Homo sapiens: one gene and its partner. The protein of the gene in region 1 interacts with the protein of each later gene in a pairwise test. Each region holds a gene or a part of one and is shown in the gene's direction. Other genes may lie near its edges.

Region 1 (3,500 bases):
ACATGGTGAAACACCATCTCTACTAAAAATACAAAAGTTAGCTGGGTGTGGTGCTGCACGCCTGTAATCCCAGCTACTCAGGAGGCTGAGGCATGACAATCACTTGAACCTGAGAAGTGGAGGTTGCAGTGAGCCGAGATCACACCACTGCACTCCATCCTGGGCAGTGAAGTAAGACTCTGTCTCCAAAAATAAATAAATAAAAAAAATAAAATTATGTCCCTTTCTTACTAGAGGGGCATGGGGAATCCCACTCACAGGGATTCCCCCAAATGAGTTCCCGGACATATCACATAATTGCTCCTGATTCTTTCCAGCCAGGAGGCTTTCAACCCAAAACACCCATCCTGCCCCATTTCTAAAGAGAGCAGGGAACCAGTGTTAACTAAGATTTTTGTGTGTTTACAGTATATGATTATGCCCATTTTACACATGAGAAAAGCAGATTCTTGGAGAAGTCAAGATGGTCAAAGCTTTTTTTTTTTTTTTTTTTTTTGAGTTGGAGTCTTGCTCTGTTGTCCAGGCTAGAGTGCAGTGGTGTGATCTTTGGCTCACTGCAACTTCTGTCTCTCAGGTTCGAGCAATTCTCCTGCCTCAGCCTCCCAAGTAGCCGGGATTACAGGCACCCGCCACCATGCCTGGCTAATTTTAGTATTTTTAGTAGAGACGGGGTTTCACCATATTGGTCAGGCTGGTCTCTCTGCCAGGCTGGTCTCGAACTCCTGACCTCGTGATCCGCCCGCCTCGGCCTCCCAAAGTGCTGGGATTACTGGCCTGAGCCACCACGCCTGGCCTTTGTCAAAGGTTCTTACCTTGTAAGTGGCTGAGTTAGAATTTCAGCTGTATTACAAGTTGCTGGGCCCAAAACTCATAGAATATTGACATATTTTATCAGTTATAAAATGCCTCCATGTACAAGCACTGCTAGGGGAGGTAATTAGCTCTGTGTGGAGAGGGGTTTACACACAGTATAGGTTGAATACCAGCTTGTTGGGATGTTTTAGAGGAGATTCAGACATTAGCCAGTTGTTGGATGACATGGGGTTTAAGGTCTTTTCCAACTTTTTGATGTCATCATCAGTATTTTGTTCAAATTTAAAAGACACATAGAATGTTCTCTAATCTTGATTAAACAATTATTTTATTTCAGTGAAGAAAATATTTGGAAGCTCTGTGAATACATCAAAAACCATGACCAGTATCCTTTAGAAGAATGTTATGCTGTCTTCATATCTAATGAGAGGAAGATGGTAAGTTGGTGAGTGATTGCAGAAAGAAAACAAGAGATTTAGGATGACATTAGAAGCTAAATTAAAAAAAAAAAAGCTAAATATAGCATGGGTGTAGTACTCTTCTGAAGTGTGCTTTATTAAATACAGCAACATTTAAAAGCTTGCTTTTGAATGAGATTTTTTTCCTTACAAGGCACGATTGAGTTAGAAGAGTTGAGTCCCTTCTGTCGCCCAGGCTGGAGTGCAGTGGCGTGATTCTTGGCTCACTGCAACCTCCACCTCCCGGGTTCAAGCGATTCTCCTGCCTCAGCCTCCCAAGTAGCTGAGACTACAGGCATGTGCCACCACGCCCAGCTAATTTTTGTATTTTTTAGTAGAGATGGGGTTTTGCTATGTTGGCCAGGCTGGTCTCGAACTCCTGGCCTCAAGTGATCCTCCCACCTCAGCCCCCCAAAGTGCTGGGAGTACAGGTGTGAGCCACCATGCCCAGCTTAGTCCCTTACTTTAGGTAAGGAAATATGTGATGGTCTACGCAGATAAAGTCCCTTTTCTTTAGGTATCAATGTAGACCTGTTTTTTTTTGTTTGTTTGTTTGTTTTTTCTTTTATTTTTTGGTACGGAGTCTCACTCTGTTGCCCAGGCTATAGCACAATGGTGTGATCTCGGCTCACTGCAACCTCTGCCTCCCAGGTTCAAGTGATTTTTGTGTCTCAGGCTCCCAAGTAGCTGGGACTACAGGTGTCCCACCACGATGGCCGGCTAATTTTTGTATTTTCAGTAGAGACAGGCTTTCTCCATGTTGGCCAGTCTGGTCTCGAACTCCTAACCTCAGGTGACCTGTCTGCCTTGGCCTCCCAATGTGGTGGGATTACCAGCATGAGCCACTGTGCCTGGCCATTTTTTTTTCTTTTTTTAAATTCAAGATGGAAGATGTAGACTTTTTAAAAATTGCTTAGAGACGCATACTCTCAGTTTTAAAGTAAGGATTTGTCTCTGGAGTTTAAATAGAACTACAGTCAACTTACATGAAGAATTAGAAAAAGTAAGCCCTTCATATTTTGTAAAACACATTTGCAGGCATCATCTCATTTGATCCCAATGGAAGCCCTGTGAAGCAGGCAATATTTGGACAAGTTTCTTCATTTTATAGATGAAGAGATTAAGACTTAGGGTGGCCCTATGAATAATTAAATGGGAGAGCAAGATTTGATACCTGCCAGGACTTCTGATTCCTAGTTCAGATCCCTTTTCACTCTCCAAAGACCATCATACAATAACTAGTGCTCTTGAGAGCTTTCATTGTTGGGGATACTTAGAAGGATTTCGATTTCTTCCTCTTCATTCATTCCTTCACCTTGATTTTTGCATGCTTAAAAATATTTTATTTCTCATGTATGTATTGCTTTAAATAGTAGTAGCCAGGTACAGTGACACGTGCCTGTAGTCCCAGCTACTTGTGAGGCGGCTGAGGCGGGCAGATCTCTTGAAGCCAAGAGTTCAAGGCTGCAGTATACTATGATGGCACCTGTGAGTAGCCACTGCACTCCAGCCAGGGCAGCATCACAAGATCCTGTCTTGGCCAGGTGCGGTGGCTCACGCCTATAATCCCAGCACTTTGGGAGGCTGAGGTGGGCAGATCACTTGAGATCAGGAGTTCGAGACCAGCCTGGCCAACATGATGAAACCTTGTGTCAAAACCCTTCATCAAAAAATAAAAATAAAAAATTAGCTGGGTGTGGTGGCACACGCCTGTAATCCCAGCTACTTGGGAAACTGAGGCAGGAGAATTGCTTGAACCCGGGAGGTGGAGGTTGCAGTAAGCCCAGATTGTGCCACTGCACTCCAGCCTGGGTGACAGAGCAGGACTCTGTCTCAAAAAAAAAAAAAAAAAATCCCGTCTCAAAAAAAAAAAAAGGAAAATAATTTAGTAGTGGTTTAACTAAAGGTATGGCTTACGAAATGTATTGTATTTTGTAGATACCTATCTGGAAACAACAGGCGAGACCTGGAGATGGACCTGTGATCTGGGTAAGACAGTTAATACAGAGAGTATTGACGCATTATGACTTGTAACCCCTTAGTGTTCTGTATGTTTTGGTAAAGCAGAAGTGACCTAAGCAGTAGAGAAAGGCTATGGTAATTATTAATAAATTGACCTTTTGAGAATAGATGTTATTTGATCTAAGGTAGAAACACTGTAGGCATATTTTCTTTTAACTTTTTGTTTTGAAATTATTATAGGAATGATTTTAAATGGTGGATATATTT
Region 2 (3,500 bases), on another chromosome or scaffold:
GGTGCCAAGGAGGCCGACTGGCACGTCATGGGTACCACTGGCGAGAATGGGGAGGGTGGCATTTGACAGGCTCTTAAAGGACCAGGAGAAGTTTGCTAGGCCTGGTGTAAGATGGGCAAGTTGGCAGAGCAGCAGCTGGTGCCCACAAACAGGGTGCAGACCCCTGTGGCAGGCAGGACAGGTCATCTAGAGCAGGGAGGAGGGAGGTGAGGCTGGTGAGTGTGTGGGAGGCAGGAAGGAGGTGGTTCCATCTGGCCCGGCCCTCCTAAGTGCATGGTGCCTGCCAGGCAGGACCCAGGCTCAGAGCCCACCTGTTGGAATAGTGTGAGGGACTTTGTTTTGGGGGCTGTGCACACAGCATCTGCCCTTCTGCTTCTTCCAAGTGGTCACGGAAGCCCTGTGGGTGGGCTGAGGTCCAGGGTCCACTCCCCAGTCCCTTCAGCGCCATCTCTGTCCTGCCTGCGGCCGGGGCCTGCTCCCACAGTCCTCCCTCCACATCGAAGGACTTGGTCTTTCTGTGCCCCGGGGCTCCTAGCCAGCAGCACAGGGGGAGCTGGGAGCAGGGCGCAGGGCCTCGGCACTTCCCTGGGTGAGGGGCAGCTGGGCCACTGAGGCAGTGACTGGGCAGACCTCTGGGCCTGGACGGCACAGAGCCTGTTTCAGAGCCTGTGAGCCTGCGGGGGGCGCCGCAGAGGTGTTTTCTCCACTGGGCAAAGCCAAGAATGACTAAGGACGAGAAGAGTGCCATGGAGGTGTCGTGTGCTCTGAGGCCTCCTCGGTAGCTGCCGCTGGCTTGGACCGAGCAATGGGCTGCCTCAGAGTGACTGCTTCCTGCCCAGGCCTGGGCCTTCGCTGAGAGCCTGCCCTTCTGGGAAGGAGGGCACTTGAGGTCAGGGAGACGTGGGTGCTGCCAGGCGTTCGGGGCTTTCCCATGGAAGTCCCTCTGTTGGTGCCCGCACAGCCGTTCCTGGAGCAGAGGCCATGTCCTGCGCGTCCCCTTGGTCCTACTACCTTTGGGCCAGTGCCCGTCCACCTGCCCCATGGGAATGAGTGACCCGGTCCAAAGAAGGTAGGCTTGCAGGAGGCTTGTCTCACAGTGCACTAAGCTCCGGGGCCCGGCCAGCCCTGGGTGCTGGGGACAGGGTGAGACTGGGGGAGCAGCTCGGGGAGGCCCAGCCTGGAGGGCCTCGTGCGTACTTTTCTTCTGTGTTCTAGGAGAGCAGGTGTGGACGGGAAGAGGCAGGGAGGCTGAGGTGCCAGTGCCGGAGTGGCGGCTGCTCACTACCTCCTGACCACAGCCAGAGCCTGGGAGAGGGAAGCCAGGTCTCCAGGTTCTGCCCCTGCCCAGCCCTCTCTGAGGACCGGAGGTGGAAGGTAGCCCCAGCCTGGAAGGCTGGCAAGGGGGCAGGAACTGCCAGTAGGGCAGCCTCCCTGAGTGGGCCCTGGGGCACACCCTGAGAGTGAGCGCGCTGACAGCTGCTCCTGCTGGCAGCCCTGCGTGACCGACCACCAGGTAACTGCCACCTGGAGCTTGCCAGTTGACACAGCTCCTAAGACACAGAGCAGGGAGACGGCTTGTAGCCCGCTTGGCAGCCTGGGCCACTGCAACCCACCCCTCCAAATGGGAAGGCCGAGCCCAGGCTGTAGCTGCCCGGGTGGGGTGTGGTGTGCTGTGCTGTGAGAGCACAGGGCAGGGAGGTGCAGGCCCACCTGCCGGTGGTCAGGGCCAGGCCCAGCGTCATGGGGAGAGCCTTCCCTGTGGTGGACACGCTGGGCATGGCCTGGCACAGGCTGGTGTGGAGTCTGGGTGCCTCGCTGTGCTGGGGCGAGGGGCTGCAGGCTACACGGAAGCTCACCCTGTCTGTCCCACCCCTGTACTGTGAGGACCCCAAGTGCCCACGCTGCATGTGGCCCATCCACACCTGTGCTTCCTCTTCCTCAGACCCCACGCCCTGTGCTCTGGAGAGATGGCAGAGTGGGAGTGCCAGGGCCCAGGGGCCCTGCCCCTGCCCCTCCCTGCCCCTGCCCCTGCCCCTCCCTGCCCCTGCCCCTGCCCCTGCCCCTGCTCCTGCCCCTGCTCCCTGCCTGGCTCTGGCTACTCCCAGCACTGCCCCCAGAGGCCTGCGCTGGTCTCCTTTTAAGGCGAAGATCTGCTGTGAGAAGCTGAAAGGGAAACATTTCCCTGGCATTCAGGGAGCATTTTTCCTTTCTCTTTCTCTTAAATAAACCATTAGCAACTTTTCAAAACAAGAAAGAAAAAAAATAAGGACAGGGTCAGGTTGCCACAAAGACCTTTGGCCCCCATCCTCATCACCCTGTGGCCTCCCCAGGCCTGGTGGACAACAGGGATACTGGAGCTGCAGGCCAGGCTGCCGCCTGATGCCAGGGGCCCCGTGCTCTCAGGCTGGCCAGGAAGGCAGGTGCCCTGCACAAGGCCTGTGGTATGTTTTCACCGGGGCCACCAGCGGCAGGGGCAGGGACAGGCTGGCCAACTCAAAAGAAGCCAGGAGTGAGAGGGTTTGCTTCTCCTTTCCTTCCAAGAGCACTGGAAAACTGGAAGGTGGGCGCTGGGGGCCCTAAACCCTGGGCCCCTCCCTGGTTGGAGGACTTGGTGAGGGGTGAGGATGCCCTCCGTGCAGGGGCCCGTGTGGCAAGTGGGAGCGCCAGCCCTTCTTCCCAGGAGGTGCCACGCAAGGCAGCTCCACTGGCCCCTCTGCGGAGCAGCCTCACCGTTGGTGTCCCGTTGGTGTCCTTTGAGCCTGGCAGGGAGGCAGTGTCGCCCCGATGGGCTCGGGCAGCTCCCTCTACACCTGCGCTGGCCACAACTGACCCCCCGGGCAGACCCTGGGTCTGATGGGCGTGTAGTGACCACACCGCGTCTCCTCTCTTGGCAGGAAGTCCAAAGCCAAGCCTAATGGCAAGAAGCCCGCTGCGGAGGAGAGGAAGGCCTACCTGGAGCCTGAGCACACCAAGGCCAGGATCACCGACTTCCAGTTCAAGGAGCTGGTGGTGCTGCCCCGCGAGATTGACCTTAACGAGTGGCTGGCCAGCAACAGTGCGCGGGGGCCTGGGGGCGGGCCCCCTCCCTCCTCCCTGCTCCTCCTCGAAGCCCCTCCTCAAGGGGGACCCCCACGGCTGGTGCTCAGCAGCCCCCTGCCGCGAGGGGAGAATGTGGCCCGTGGACGGGCAGAGCTCACCCAGCCGAGCTCCTGCACCTGTTGCTGGAAGCAGGGGTGGACGGGGCGGCTCAGCTCTGGCGTTTTTCACATCTGGCTCCTTCTCTTCTCTTCCAGCCACGACGTTTTTCCACCACATCAACCTGCAGTATAGCACCATCTCCGAGTTCTGCACAGGAGAGACGTGTCAGACGATGGCCGTGTGCAACACGTGAGTGCTGCCTGGCTACAGCCCACTTTCTCTTGGGAGACTCGGTGGGGCTCTGAGCCCCCGCTGCCCCAGGCTCCTGTCCTCTCAGATTCCGTTCTCACCTGGAGACCCTG

Evidence for each region. The genes of interacting proteins can lie anywhere in the genome.
Region 2: the proteins of NTAQ1 (region 1) and MOB2 interact in binary tests that used the Homo sapiens proteins (3 or more experiments, as listed by UniProt).

Annotation. Positions count from the first base shown.
Region 1 is NC_000008.11:123,426,774-123,430,273, forward strand, and holds part of NTAQ1 (protein N-terminal glutamine amidohydrolase), read left to right. Parts: intron 1-1,150; coding exon 1,151-1,250; intron 1,251-3,209; coding exon 3,210-3,260; intron 3,261-3,500. UniProt on the Homo sapiens protein: Mediates the side-chain deamidation of N-terminal glutamine residues to glutamate, an important step in N-end rule pathway of protein degradation.
Region 2 is NC_000011.10:1,480,280-1,483,779, reverse strand, and holds part of MOB2 (MOB kinase activator 2), read left to right. Parts: intron 1-2,893; coding exon of another isoform or gene 2,894-2,894; coding exon 2,895-3,055; intron 3,056-3,293; coding exon 3,294-3,387; intron 3,388-3,500. UniProt on the Homo sapiens protein: Stimulates the autophosphorylation and kinase activity of STK38 and STK38L.